4 linked regions of the Homo sapiens genome follow. The protein of the gene in region 3 interacts with the protein of the main gene of each other region in a pairwise test. Each region holds a gene or a part of one and is shown on either strand. Other genes may lie near its edges.

Region 1 (4,136 bases), on a different chromosome or scaffold from region 3:
ATAGAGAATAATTCAACCAATTTAAAGAATTAAAAGCTGAGCTAGTAATAATGAACCATAGCTGAGATTTTTTTAAAGGGCATATGAAAGCAGGGTTTGACAAACTAAAGCAATTAAGATGATTCTTACATTTTCAGATGGTTAAATTTTAAATGGTTATGCAAATACCTACATGATAGCTTAAATTTTACCTAAAATATTTACTATCTGGCCCTTTAAGAAAAAGTCAGCCAGCCAACTCCTGTGTCAAAGCAGTGAAATTCTATTTTGCTAGTTTCTGGTGGTATTAATGTTTCGGAGTCAGTACAAGTTTCAGATGACTTATTTAGAAACTTTTTTAAATGTCTTTTGAGTGTCATCTGAAAAATGTATATTCTTACTTATTATCTGTGTTTCCACGAGATTTCTTGTAATTTGCATAATCCTCAAGAATGGAATCCACATTCTTCTTGGCAGGAAGATAAAAGAGCTATGAAGACAAAAATATGCTTAAATATAAGCACTCTCTTTTTTAAAGAAAAATCATACCAGGCAAGTTTTTATACAAAGATCAGGTAACAGTAACAGTATTTCAAATTAGGAAAGATACTATTCAGCACTTAAAACATGGATAATGTGGCTGAGAAACTACAGACAGTTCCCAACTTACAATGGTTTGGACTTAATTTTCCAACTCTCTGCTGGGTTTATTGCGATGTAACCCCATTCTAAGTTATGGAGCATCTATATATTTAAACAGCCAAATGAGACTCTACTAGACAGAACAGCACAGCTTTTAAAAATGTCAATCTGTCACACACACATAACAGACACGAATGTGCCTTTGTGGTACTACCAAGTCATCATTTACTGTTATGCATACTATTTGCTAGATCTAGTCTAAAGCATTAAAATAATTATCTTTTCGTCCTCTCATCAGCATTGTCAAATACAAACTATTATTCCATTAAATGCAAAAACAGAAGCACAAAAAGGCTAAGAAACTTGTCCAAACTCACAAATAATAAGTGATACAGCCATGCTTGAATCTTCGCAGTTTAGCTGTAACTGCATAACCCTCCAAAGGATTCAAATCAGAATTCAAACTATATCCACATACTGTATATGACTGATAGGTCTCTTAAGTCTCATAATCCTCAAGCAGTCCCTAATCATCTCCCCCAACTATCCCTAACCCTACCTATGCCATTTGTTCAAATAGCTTCATTTGTCCTATAAAATTCTCAATTATAGAGTTCAACGATTGACAAACATGTCACTCCATTAAACATCCTATTTCCTGCAAACTAACAATAGATCCAGGCGCTTAGTAAGATTCAGGTTCTTTTCAGGGTCATGAATACCTTGCAGGTGGTGGTGTGTGCTTTCTATGGCCTACCATTAGCAATGACAGTAAGACATATGCTTCTTCACCTTTATGAATTTTCAGAACGAGTTCCTGCCCTAGCAATCTCCAAAAATGAGTTATTTCCACCTTTATCATTATAACCTCATAAAATTTATATGTGAACTTTTATTCTTCTAACTTACTCTTTCTGGTAGTAGTTCTAAAGTGTTCAGCCTCTAAATTAAAATATTATTTTATCAGTCATACCTTAATAATTCAAGTCAATATAACATTTTCCTTTAAAAACTTTTTTTGCTAGCAAGAATGTATCATATAGCTTAACAATCTGGGTAGCTTTTCAAGTTACCTGTTTTTGCCTGGTAATTAAGTCCCAGTCATCAACAAGCCACGGTTTTAGCTCTTCAGGAATCTTTACTTTAACTTCAACTCTGTTCATGAATGTTTCCTCCTAAACAGAAACAGGAGGAGTATTAAAAACCTAACCTTTCTTGCTAAATACCAAACATGGAGGGGAGCTGACTTTTAGAGGCACTAGGGATAAATCTTAAAGTAGCCAAGCATACAGCTGTACTGTCATTTTTTAAAATCATTAATAAAAACGACCATACGCGGTTCGCTGTTGGGAGAAAAGAATCTGACCTGAACTATAGTCTATTTAGTGCATTTTCTTGTAAAGGTAAAAATTCTTCAGTAAGGTTCCTCTTGTTCAGGAAATGAAACACCCTGACTTGATACATTTTAACTTAGTATTTTCTTATTTACCATGGATATCAAAACTATTCCAAACACAACCATCTTAAAGGTACATCTTTAACTCCTAAAAATAAATACGTAACACCAAAGAAATAGTCTTGTAGGTGAACATGAAGCTTACACAACAAATGATCAATTGGGTAGGTAAATCTGGAGCTACAGGTGAAATAAAGATATACAGAAATTTATCCTTTACCCCCAAAAGAGAAAATTTTTAATTTCAGGTATTAACCATGTAAGCAAATCTTGTAGATAATCAAAGCTCCCATGGTTATGTCATGTAACTGAGACTAAAAATCCTAACATGCTATTCATAAACACAAGAAAAACTCACATTTTCAACAGTAGGATCTACCCGGGCCCTTTTCTTCCGAGGAGGCTGAGGGGTCTCACTGGTACTGCCACCATCTCCATTTCCAGGTGCTGTAAATGTTGGCGGGGAGGGGTCTCATTTAGCTAATTTAACAAACTCTATAAGGAAAATAGTCTCTTGACACATTAACCCTTTTCATTATTTCTCCATTACACAGCTGTTACCTCAATCTAAGTTAAAGAATCATATTCCTACCAAAAATACAACTTTCATGAAGAGCTCTACCGAACATTTAGTATAGACAACATTTAGTATCACCATCTTCCATTTATTTATAAATGTTATCTTCTCAGTGGGAGACATTAAGACTAAAGCAGATGAAAATAAATGCTCACAAGTTTCTCCTTGGCAAAAAGAGGTCTCTACCACCATGTACCTATTTTATAACACTGCTGTGAGACTCCTATTTGAGATAATCAATAAACATAAGCTTACTCCAAAATTTCATAGCTTTCAAAATAAAAACGTCAATGTCATAGAGGTAACATAAATTAACGTTAAGAAAGTTAATATTCTTACTTTTCTGTTTGTTCTTTTTCGTTTTCCTAAAAGGAGAGAAAAAAAAGAAAAATAATTATTTCCAGTAAAACTGCCTCTGTTTCAACTCCCTTTATCAGGGTTAAGTTCACAGAGAAATACTAACTTGGATAAAGGATCAGGTGGTAAATATGTGTCCTACTCAGACACAAGGATTTTTATTGATAGTTGGTTAAATTCCCATCTCTCTCCACATAATAGAAAAAAATAAACCAAGCCAGGCGCAGTGGCACATGCCTGTAATCCCAGCATTTTGGGAGGTGAAGAGGGGGTGGATCTCTAGAGCTCAAAATTCCAGACCAGCCTGGGCAACATGGCAAATCCTGTTCTCTATAAAAAATACAAAAATTAACTGGGCATACTGGCAAACGCCTATAGTCCCAGCTACTTGGGAAGCTGAGGTGAGAGGATTGCTTGAGCCCAGGAGGCCAAGGCTGCAGTGAGCCTTGATTGCACCACTGCACTCCAGTCTTGGTGACAGAGACCCTGTCTCAAAGACAAAAAAAAAAGAAAAGCAAACCAAGAACACTTTAGTAAACAACTTCGTTCTTCCAGGGTTATATTAATATATGTTATAGTATATACTACATTATTAGGCCCACCAAAAAAAAAAGGTGTCAAAGGTTAAAATTTTTTTCCAATTATTTTTGTTCCCCAAAATATTTTTAGATTTGTGTAATTTTTTTGTTTTAAGTCTCCTCATCTTGATTATCATCTCTAACAGCAACTTACCTCACGTCACTTATATACTGTCAAATGGTAAATTGCTAATTTTGCTTTATTTATTTATTTTGAGATGGAGTCTTGCTCTGTCTGTTGGGTGATCTCGGCTCACTGCAACCTCCTCCTCCCGGGTTCAAGCGATTCTCCTGCCTCAGCCTTCCAAGTAGCTGGGACCATAGGCACCCACCACCACTCCCAGCTCATTTTTGTATTTTAAGAGACGGGATTTCACCATGTTGGCCAGGCTGGTCTCAAACTCCTGACCTCAAGTGATTCGCATACCTCGGCCTTCCAAAATGCTATTACAGGCGTGTGCCACCATGCCTGGCCTAATTTTGCTTTTTTACATTATTATTTCTAGACCACAAAGGAAACAGTTTATAGAGCCCATGATTATGGATT
Region 2 (3,421 bases), on a different chromosome or scaffold from region 3:
GAGTTCACGCCATTCTCCTGCCTCAGCCTCCTGAGTAGCTGGGACTACAGGCGCCCACCACCACGCCCGGCTAATTTTTTTTGTATTTTTAGTAGAGACAGGGTTTCACCGTGTTAGCCAGAATGGTCTCGATCTCCTGACCTTGTGATCCACCCGCCTCGATCTCCCAAAGTGCTGGGATTACAGGCATGAGTCACCGTGCCCGGCCTCCTCATCCCTTCTTATCACACCTGCTATTATAGTGCCTTTCCTACAGAGAGGTCTTTAAAAATATTTGAAAATAAATGCGTGCTAGAAGAAGGGATGGAGAAGGCACACACTAAGATGCTTTAGGAGAAAGCATTGACAGCATTCTTGGAGAAAAAATTTTAACTTGTCTGAGAGGGTGGTTGAAACTGGAACTCCAGAGATAGATGCTGGAAGACCCTGGGAACTGCAAGGAAGCAAATAATGACATCCAGGCAAGGCCACTAACCCCTGAGCTACTTAAATATAATGGTTCCTTTCAGACTGATACCAGGAACCTCCTTAAGCATATAAGCATATATTTTTTAATTCTCTATAATCTGTTTCTTTTTGGATGACTATGAAGTAGATTGGGTAGACTGAAGCTCACTGTATTCTTGGCTGACGGTATCCCACTGTGTTTCCTTCACTGGTTTCTCGTCATGTCTCCTTTAGTATGATTTAGTAAATGGCTGTTTACTATTCTTATGATTTCAACTATTCATTGTCTACAGATGACTCAAGTCTAGAACCCTGGCCATTCAAATACTCAATAGTTATCTTTCTATATATATGAACAGGCATTGATCCTATCTCCATCTTTCTGTCTACCTACCTAGTCTTCCCAAACTAGATATTTCTCTAAATTGTCTTATATGGTTCATTTTTCACTTCTTTGTCCCTCAATTTCATTTCATTTCTTTTTCTTTTCTTTTCTTTTCTTTTTTTTTTTTTTTGGTGGTGGGGCGGCAGGGACAGGGTTTCACTGCAGCCTCAACCTCCTAGGCTCAGGTGATCCTCCCACCTCAGCCTCCCTAGTAGCTGGGACTTCAGGCATGTGCCACCATGTCTGGCTAATTCTTTAATTTTTTGTAGAGATTGGGGTAATACCTATCTCATAGAATTAATAGAGTTCATTGTGAAGATTTCATAAGAGAACAGTGCCAAGTGCTTAACACAGTGTGTGGCACATAGTTAGGACTCAGTAACTATTTACTCAATAAATGAACCATATTCCAGGTTACCCAAACTCAAAATATTGGAGTAATTTTTTGCTTGCCTCTCTTATATTCAGTGAGCCCTACTGGTTTTTAGAATTGTAGAATTTTAGGAATCTCTGTCTTTACTGGATTTTTTGTTTGTTTTGGGCTTTTTTGTTTGTTTGTTTGAGATAGGGTCTCACTCCGTCACCGACGCTGGAGTGCAGTGGTGTGATCACAGCTCACTGCAACCTCTACCTCCTGGGCTCAAGCAATCCTCCCACCTCAGCCTCCTGAGTAGCTGGGACTACAGGCATGTGCCACCATGCCCAACTAATTTATTTTATTTTGTAGAGATAGGGTCTCACTATGTTGCCCAGGCTGGTCTCAAACCCCTGGACTCAAGCAATCCTCCTGCCTTGGCCTCCCTAAATGCTAGGATTATAGGCGTGAGCTATCATACCCAGCCTGTGTTGTTTTTTAACAATATATAATAAAAGCCAACATTTATTCAGCACTGAAGTATTTTATACACATTAGCTCACTTAATTTTTACAACAAACCTGTGTGGGAAGTACTGTTATAATTAATCGTCATTTTCAGATAAGAAAATAGCAGCTGAAAAAGTAAAAATAATTTCCTCAAAGACAGCCAGGGCTTAAATCAGGCCTTTCTGATGTAGACCATGCTCTTCACTACCACAGAGTTCCATGCTACTTTCTCTCCCTCTCCCTCCTCTCCTGTCCCTGCTACACACACACACACACACACACACACACACACATGCACACTCACTCACACACACTAGGAGGAACAAATGAGATCATTCACATGAAAGCACTTATGTTTCTGAAATTTAAGGGACTGTGGTTTTTATCTAGGTTGACCTCTCAAGCTAAAAACTGGGAACCAGAATAATGGACTGAAACTTGGGTTTCACTTCCAGACCAGTGTTGATCCTCTGAATTGATGAAACTGTATAGATTTCCCTCTTGATTGCCCCTGCTAACATGGATTTCCTTTCACTCAATTCCTAATGCAAATATTGCTGACCACTGTTTAGATGTTTACATGCTGCATTACATTGATATTTTACTATTTGGTGTTTGTTCTAACTTGTCTCCAATCAATCAATTTCATGTGGTTTATATAAACTCTTTGGTGGCTGTGATGGTTAGTTTTAGGTGCCAACTTGCCTGGATTAAGGGATACAGAGATAGGTAGTAAAGCGTTATTCCTAAGCATGTCTGTGCGGAAGTTTCCAGAAGAGACTGGCATTTGAATCAGTAGCTGAGTAAGGAAGATCCCCCTCACCAATATGGGTGGGCACCATCCAATCTGTTGAGGGCCTGGATAGAACAAAAAGACAAAGGAAAGATGGATTCAGTCTCTCTCCTGGGACAGCCATCTTCTCTTGCCCTCAGATAGCAAAACTCCAGGTTCTTGGCCTTCAAACTCCAGGACTTAACCAGCGGCCCCTCAGGTTCTTAGGTCCTCAGCCTCAGACTGAGTTACACCATCATCTCCTCTGGTTCTCAAGCCTTTAGACTCAAACTGAAACACATAATTGGCTTCACTGGTTCTTCAGCTTACAGACAGCAATTGTGGGACTTCCTAGCCTCCATAATTTATTTCCATAATAAATCCCCTCCTGTTTATCTACCTATCCATCCTTCCATCCCATTGATTCGGTTTCTCTGGAAGACCCTAATATAATACATAAATTAAATATTTATTTTACTTTACTTTCAGGACCTAGCACCGTGCCAGGCCCCTAGAAGACCCAGTAAAGATCTGTTGAATAAACTGTAAGAATGAACACACCACTACAAGTGCCAGGTCCTGGTCCTTTCAAACAACGTGGAGAAAACCCAGTTCCAGATTTAGGAATCAATACCATATGTCTGGCAAAGACTCTTTGCTCTTGCAAGTGCCTTCTTCTGTTCAGGCTTTTAGCGCCCCTGGACTACAACAGAACTTTACTTTCTGGTATTCTTAGTCTCCCTAACCTCTGCACTTCATATTATGTAGGCAGATAAAAACTCTGGTTACATATATTGCTGTGTGATGACCAAAAAAAATTGTGGCTTAAAACTTTAATCATTTTATTAGCTCATGGTTTCTGGCAGTCATGAATTCAGGCAGGCCCTGGGACAGTTTGTCTCTGCTCCCCCCAGTGTTGGGGCCTCAGCTAGGAAGACTTTAAGGCTGGGAGA
Region 3 (4,542 bases):
CCCAAATAGCTGGGACTACAGGTGCCTGCCACCACGCTTGGCTAATTTTTTGTATTTTTTTAAGTAGAGATGGGGTTCACCATGTTAGCCAGGATGGTCTCGATCTCCTGACCTTGTGATCCACCCACCTTGGCCTCCCAACGTGCTGGGATTACAGGCTGTAAATATTCTTAACTAAAGTATTTCTTTGCCTTTGTATCGCACCAGGTACTTCCATGTGGACCACCAATGAGGGGAGCAGCAAGAGCACTGGAATGGGAATGAGGAGAGCTGTAGTCTGACACAGGCTCACTAAACTGCTCTGAGATCCAAAATAAGTCCCTTAACTCCTCTGAGCCTCAGCTTCCTCAACTAAGGATTCTTTTAGCTCTAAAACAATATTTTTATTTATTGTTCCCAGAAAACATCTTCATACATAGGGAATAATCAGTATTATTTATCAGATTTTCTATGTAATTAAAAAAAAAAATGGTCATACTTTTCCTTCCTCCATCCTACATCTTCCATATCCCAGGTGGGCATATTTACAAAGATAAGTAAACAAACTGATAAGGCCCAAATGACAAAACAGATTAGTGATAAGATGGACAGAACTGATAAACTATGGTGTAAATCAACATCAAATTATCACCTTGAGGTGATAAAAGGAGTTTTCTAGACTACAAGGCTGGAAGGAATTATTTATCTTCTACCAGAAGAATAAGATTATGTTTTTACGATTGTTGCATAATAGTAATTATTGTGGTAGTTACCTTCTACATCAATGTTCTGGTCAGGAATCTCCAGTTCAATAATATTCATGCTGGATTCTTTCCAAGAACCACTGAACATACTAGAAAAGTAGCCAGACTTAAACAAAAAAAAAAGTCAACGATTATCAAGTACTTTCTGTGTCTTCCAAATTATTTGCCCATTTCTAATTCTAAGCAACTATTCTATCCATTAACTAAACTCATCCATTCTATTACTTCAACAGAAAAAGAACTGCCAAATATGTCCACAGGAGAAAAGAAATTAAGATAAGGACACTATTAGGTGTATCAAAATATACTTTTGGTTTAGTACTATTTTTGACAAAAAACTAAAATTCTTATATTACTATCTAAATTGAATTCATGTATATTATTTGAACCTGGTTAGCTTTTTACTCAAACTGTTGAATCTTTACTGTACACCTGAATGGCTATAAAGGACCAAACCAGTCCCAAGTCAGCAAAAACAGGATGATCGCCAAAGAAACCAGGGAAAATCCAAAATTTAGTTTAATGAGAAATGTCCAGAATGGACCTGAATTCTTGGAAAGGTACAGAATGAAGTCTTTAGGTATCTGCCAGATAGCACTCCTCATAATTAGAATTACTTTGAAATGGATCAAATATTAACTAATTTATTTAAAAATGTTACTGAGTACTTAGTATGTAGAAGGCACTGTGAATATAGCAATAAACAAAATCGATATTGTTTCTGTCCTCAGGGGGCTTATATTTTAGCATGTGGCTTGAATTATAATACATCTTCCACGAGGGGTAAAGTTTTAACAGAGGTATTCTTACCCTCAAGTTCACAAAACTGCTTTCAGATATTAAAAAGAAACAACATGAATCATACCCTGAAGTTAAAAGCAATATTCTGATATAGTATCTGGGCAACATACTTCAAGCCAAAATAAATTTGTTTCAAAAACACATTTTAAAACATGATTAAAATGTTAGAGAAGGCAATTCATTTTCAAATACTTTTACTGAAAAATTTTATACTATGCTGTCTTACCAGTAATTATTCTCAAATGGTAAAGAGGAAAAATGTAAGTTCCAAAGGATAAAAACTGTTGTTTTATTTCTAGTGCCTCAAACAATACCTAGCTTATAGATTTGATGAAAGAAAATGAATAAAATATTTGGGCCATTAGAGCAACATTGTATTCTATTTTGAAAGCTCCGATTTTTTTTTTTTTTTTTTTTTTTTTTTTGAGACAGAGTCTCGCTCTGTTGCCCAGGCTGGAATGCAGTGGTACGATCTCAGCTCACTGCAACCTCCATCTCCCAGGTTCAAGCAATTCTCCTGCCTCAGCCTCCTGAGTAGCTGGGATTACAGGTGCCCAACACCACGTCAGCTATGAAAGTTCTGAATTTTTAAAGTGGGGTGGCAGGTAGTAATATTTTCAGTACAGAAATCTACTTAGTCTATATACTTTTTGGTGTTGTCTTTACCTGCATTTTTCAGGAGAGAACTTTCTATTCACACTCAATGTGAACTACAAAGCAACATTTCAGATGAGTTTATCCAATTTAAATAACCATAAGCAAAATAAACACTACAATCTTAACTTTAATGTTAAATATTTTTTCCCCAACTTTTCCCCTTTTATCAACAGAAGGCACCGAAAAAAGCATTTTATGAAGTAATGACAAATACGTAGTATTAGGCTAGTCTGATACTGAAATATCAAAATCTCTTTCTAGACCAAACTTAGTTTTCACTAACAATGTTTGCCATTTTTCTTACAGACTGATCAAATGAGAGGATTTAACCACTATGGTGTTCATGCAAAAGATTACTGTGAAGTGCAATGAGGAAGAACATGACTTAAGAGTTTCAGTGACTACCCTGTTACTCAAATAGAAAAAATACTTACTTGACATAAATATATTTTGTGTAAGCTCCATTCTTCTCCTAGAGCACAAATCTTAATGTCACTGTTTTCACCATTCAAAAATAATGTTTGATAAATATATTTAGATGTACTCTTTAATTTTTTCCTGTTAAAAGAAATGAAAAAGTCACATATTTATATAAAACTGAATGTTTTACTGATTTTGCATATATTTCTAAATACTCCTTTTATTCAATTTCTATTAAATAGAGTCAACTTACCTATTGTGTAAAAGGATAGGGAGATAGTATATATTCAAATTTTCTTGTGTCTAGAAGAGTACATAAGAAACTAATAATAGTGGTTATCTCTGGGGTCCTCTATGCACGGGAGAGATAGTGGAGAAAGGGGGGCAGCATGGGAGGCAGACTTTTCACTACACATGTTTTAGCAATTTTGGACTAATTTAATTACCCATTCAATAGATTAAGAAGTTAGCATGTTGATTTTTTGCTTATTTCCTTATTTAGAAACCAGCACTATGAAGGAGCTCAAATAGCGCAATAATCTGCAAGTAGGAAATGGAGAACAAGAGTAAACATTTCACCTACCCAAGTAATTTTAAAATAATTTACATTTAATCTTATTTTGGTACCAACCTATTCTTAAACTACTTAAAATGTTTTCCAGCCACTGGACAAACGGTTTGCAACCTTAGATCAAAGGTTTTCTTTTCTTTTCCTATTTGTTTTTTAAAATTATTTATTTATTTATTTTAGATGAAAGGTTTTTAAAACTGCTCAAAGGAGAAGTCTTAGGGGCCACCAAGGAGAGCTAAGGAGTGAACTGTGAGCATCCCATCTAACTTCAACCAGAGCAGCATCACCTATTCTATCTGTAAACATACTGGATTTCTGCACAGATTTAATTTAAAGGAAGACTTGACTAAAAAAATAAAGTTTGAAAATCATTGCTCAAAATGATCCAGTAACTAAGAAAAGGCCTTAGGCAGAGGCTGATCAATATCTTAAATTCCTGACCAATTCTGAAAGCTTTCCTAGCACATAAAACCTTCAATCTCTTTTTAAAAATGAAGTAATTGTTTCAGATGACATCCTGAATTGGCGAATTTAACACCTGTGTACTTAACACCTCTTCCTAGCCGACAATAAAAACAGCACATGTCTTAGTGGTAACAGACTTGGGTTTGAGTCCCAGCTGCTCAGTTATCACAGCTGTAAAAAGAGGACATTAATAGTATCCACTTCACTCGTTATGATGCGAAATCAAGAGACAATGTAGTTTCCAGTTCCTGACGGCAGAATGTACACATGTTGGCTTCCCATCCCTCCCCAAATTACATTAAAGATTAAGAGTACAAAAAAGGAATAAGTCCACACCAGGAAAAGGTGAGGGTAGGCTCATCACTTGATGAGAGATTTATACAGATCTGAAAGTTAGAAAACAAATTCAAATGAAAAAGAACAGTGACAGCCACAGCCAAAAAATACATTATGGAGGACTAGGATGGAGGCTAAGCTTATCTGCCCATCAGAACCCTTGGGAGAAAAGAAGGATGAGGTCTCAGGGAAACAAAGGCAGAAGTAAGAAGAGGGGCAGAAAATGGGGAAACTAGTGCCTTCTCCACTCTATGAACACAGAGTATAGATAAGGAGAGTACAGATACTGAGGCAAAAAGATTCCAAGGTTTTTCTAGAAATAGCACAAAGCTAATGGAAGATCTAAGGCTGTAGTGTAGCTGCTGGTGCCCAGACAAAGCAATCCTCATTCTGAAATTTAAAGAATCTGTGGCCTGTTCACTCCCAATCCATTCACCCTAAGTCATGGTTCCCAAACCGTGTGTGAAATTCACCAGTTCAGGATACCATCTGAACTTAGAGCACCACAGCCAACTCAGAGAGGCATGTGGAGTATTTTAAATTCGAAGG
Region 4 (3,099 bases), on a different chromosome or scaffold from region 3:
ATTCCTATCACGGTATAGAAAAACCCATCACATTGAACCACGTACCATTAGCCAGGATGAGATCCTTGAACGCTGCTTATATTCACTTATCAATGAAGCATTCCGTATCTTGGGAGAAGGGATAGCTGCTAGCCCAGAGCACATTGATGTTGTCTATTTACATGGATATGGATGGCCAAGGCACAAGGGCGGGCCCATGTTCTATGCTTCCACAGTTGGGTTGCCCACAGTTCTAGAGAAATTGCAGAAATATTACAGGCAGAACCCTGATATTCCCCAACTGGAGCCAAGTGACTATCTAAAAAAACTGGCTTCTCAGGGAAACCCTCCCCTGAAAGAATGGCAAAGCTTGGCAGGCTCCCCTAGCAGTAAATTGTGATTCAGTCTTCCAGATTATGCCTCACATGCTAGCATCAGGTAATGCTGACTGAATTTCAGTGAAATTAAATCAAAAATCCAAAGTAAGATTGTTCTGAAATACAAAGCAAAATAAATAATCATTAGAATCTTCTGTGTAACGACTCTAATGGTCAAATCTTTAGGAATGTGCTTCCTATGCCTCTGAATCTGTCCTTATCAGATAAATTCAATGCATGAACTTGTGTGAATATAATACCATAATAGCTAATGAAAGAGGCTCAGGCATAAGTTGAGATTCTCAAATGCTTTTATCATTGGATAAATGTGTCATCAATTAATAAATGATAAATGCAGCTAAGTCATACATTCATTTTGACTCCTTTCAATGTCACACACATAGTATTGATCAGAAATCTTATGAATCATACATACACTCAACAAACATTAAAGTTGTAGGAAAAAGACAGTTGGAAATTGGTAAGGGAACTGAGTACTTCAAACCAGCACAGGGAACTTAGGTTAGTGTGGCAAGCCTTTCCTCTTCTGGTCTTTCCTCTTCTGTTTATGGAGAAATAATAGAAAGTAGTAAGTCGTTAACTTAGTGTAAGAAGGGTCTTAGAGAACATCTAACCTTCTAGGATTTCCCAATTCTGTGATAGAGTAATGACACCAGTTTTCCTGTCATGACAAGCCTCTGTGATGTTACATATGGAAATGGTTGAATCTTGAAAAATCTAAAATTGTTGCAAAACATATTTTGTATGATTTTGTTGTAAGAGTTCTTCTCTTTTTACTTTTTGCCTTGTGTAGTTAAAAATTAAGGGGCTGGTCAATACAAAAACTTGTACACAAATATTTATAGCAGAATTATTCATAATGGCCAAAAGCTGAATACAACCCAAATGTCTATGAACTAATGAATAGATAAACCAAATCTGGTATATCCATACAATGGACTATATTATTCAGCCATAAAAAGAAATAAAGGGCCAGGCACAGTGGCTCACACCTGTAATCCCAGCACTTTGGGAGGCTGAGGCAGGAGGATTGTTTGAGGCCAGAAATTTGAGACCAGCCTGGGCAACATAGCAAAACCCTGTCTCTACAAAAAATACTTTCCGTACATTAGTGGTTGCCTAAGGCTAGAATTGGGGGTGATGAATGGGGAGTACAGGATTCATCTAATGGGTACAGGATTTCTTTATGGTTCATGAAAATGGTCTAAACTTATTGTGGTAATGGTCACATAACAATATATTAAAAACCATTGAGTTGTATATTTTAAGTGGGTGAATTATATGGTATGTGAATTATATCTCAATAAAGTTGTTAGTAAATAAATGGGGCTGAAGATGTTATCCTTCATTGTGGTGTAAATGAACTTTCACAATATTTTCACCTGTGAACCCAAATAAAATGATTAAAGTTCTGATGGAAAAATCTTGAATGGAGTATAAGTTTTCCGTTGTTAAAAAGCAAACAAAAAACCAACAAAAAATCCAAGTGTGCCTTGAATTGTACAGAGCACAATTATTATGTTTGAAATGTGTACTACTTAATTTTATATAATTTGGTTTGTGAAATTAAAGACATCAATAAAAATGATTCCTGAAAGTAGTAATTTTGTCTCCAAAGTGACTTGCTTTCAAATCAGTGTTAAAAAAAACCCACTAACTTTTTCTTCAAACCTGGAATTAATTTTGAGTTCTTACAACTTATTTTCACCCTACAGTGGCCTCTAGATTAAGGGGGTTTTTTTTGTTTTTTTGTTTTTGTTTTTGTTTTTTTCTGACTGGAGTCTTGCTCTGTCGCCCAGGCTGGAGTGCAGTGGCGCTATCTCAGCACGCTGAAAGCTCTGCCTCCCAGGTTCACACCATTCTCCTGCCTCAGCCTCCTGAGTAGCTGGGACTACAGGTGCCCGCCACCACGCCTGCCTAATTTTTTGTATGTTTCAGTAGAGACAGGGTTTCACCATGTTAGCCAGGATGATCTCAATCTCCTGACGTCATGATCCACCTGCCTCGGCCTCCCAAAGTGCTGGGATTACAGGCGTGAGCCACCACGCTTGGCCTAGATTGAGATTTTGAAACTAGAGGGTCTATGAATAGGTTTTATGAGTCAATAACCCCTGAAATGTTATGATAAAGTTTGTGTACATGTATCTGAGTACATTTCTTGGAAAAGGTACCATATCTCACATCATATTCTAAAAAGTATCATGACCCGACCAGGCGCAGTGACTCACGCCTGTAATCCCAGCACTTTGGGAGGCCAAGGCAGGTGGATCATGAGGTCAGGAGATCGAGACCATCCTGGCTAAAACGGTGAAGCCCCACCTCTACTAAAAATACACAAAATTAGCCGGGTGTGGTAGAAGCACCTGTAGTCCCAGCTACTTAGGAGGCTGAGGCAGGAGAATCACTTGAACCTGGGAGGCAGAGGTTGCAGTGAGCCGAGATCATGCCACTGTACTCCAGCCTGGGCAACAGAGTGAGACTCTGTCTCAAAAAAAAAAAAAAAAAAAAAAAAGTATCATGACCCAGTAAAGGTTAAGGACCAATAGAAAATGGCAAGAGCAGCCTGGCAAGGTGGCTCATGCCTGTAATCCCAGCACTTTGGGAGGCCAAGGTAGGCAGATCACTTGGGGTCAGGAGTTTGAGACCAGCCTGGCCAACATGGTGAAACCCCGTCCCTACTAAAAATACAAAAATTAGCCAGGCGTGGGGCGCATGCCTGTTA

The links.
Region 1: the proteins of GMCL1 (region 3) and MORF4L1 interact in binary tests that used the Homo sapiens proteins (3 or more experiments, as listed by UniProt).
Region 2: the proteins of GMCL1 (region 3) and HYKK interact in a two-hybrid assay, tested with the Homo sapiens proteins (2 studies listed by BioGRID).
Region 4: the proteins of GMCL1 (region 3) and EHHADH interact in binary tests that used the Homo sapiens proteins (3 or more experiments, as listed by UniProt).

What each region holds. Positions count from the first base shown.
Region 1 is NC_000015.10:78,889,872-78,894,007, reverse strand, and holds part of MORF4L1 (mortality factor 4-like protein 1), read right to left. Parts: intron 3,020-4,136; coding exon 2,994-3,019; intron 2,525-2,993; coding exon 2,436-2,524; intron 1,797-2,435; coding exon 1,695-1,796; intron 470-1,694; coding exon 381-469; intron 1-380. UniProt on the Homo sapiens protein: Component of the NuA4 histone acetyltransferase (HAT) complex which is involved in transcriptional activation of select genes principally by acetylation of nucleosomal histones H4 and H2A.
Region 2 is NC_000015.10:78,534,343-78,537,763, forward strand, and holds the end of HYKK (hydroxylysine kinase), read left to right. Parts: 3' UTR 1-2,303; downstream 2,304-3,421.
Region 3 is NC_000002.12:69,835,764-69,840,305, reverse strand, and holds part of GMCL1 (germ cell-less protein-like 1), read right to left. Parts: intron 2,760-4,542; coding exon 2,636-2,759; intron 850-2,635; coding exon 753-849; intron 1-752. UniProt on the Homo sapiens protein: Possible function in spermatogenesis. Enhances the degradation of MDM2 and increases the amount of p53 probably by modulating the nucleocytoplasmic transport.
Region 4 is NC_000003.12:185,189,506-185,192,604, reverse strand, and holds the end of EHHADH (peroxisomal bifunctional enzyme), read left to right. Parts: coding exon 1-379; 3' UTR 380-1,981; downstream 1,982-3,099. UniProt on the Homo sapiens protein: Peroxisomal trifunctional enzyme possessing 2-enoyl-CoA hydratase, 3-hydroxyacyl-CoA dehydrogenase, and delta 3, delta 2-enoyl-CoA isomerase activities. Catalyzes two of the four reactions of the long chain fatty acids peroxisomal beta-oxidation pathway.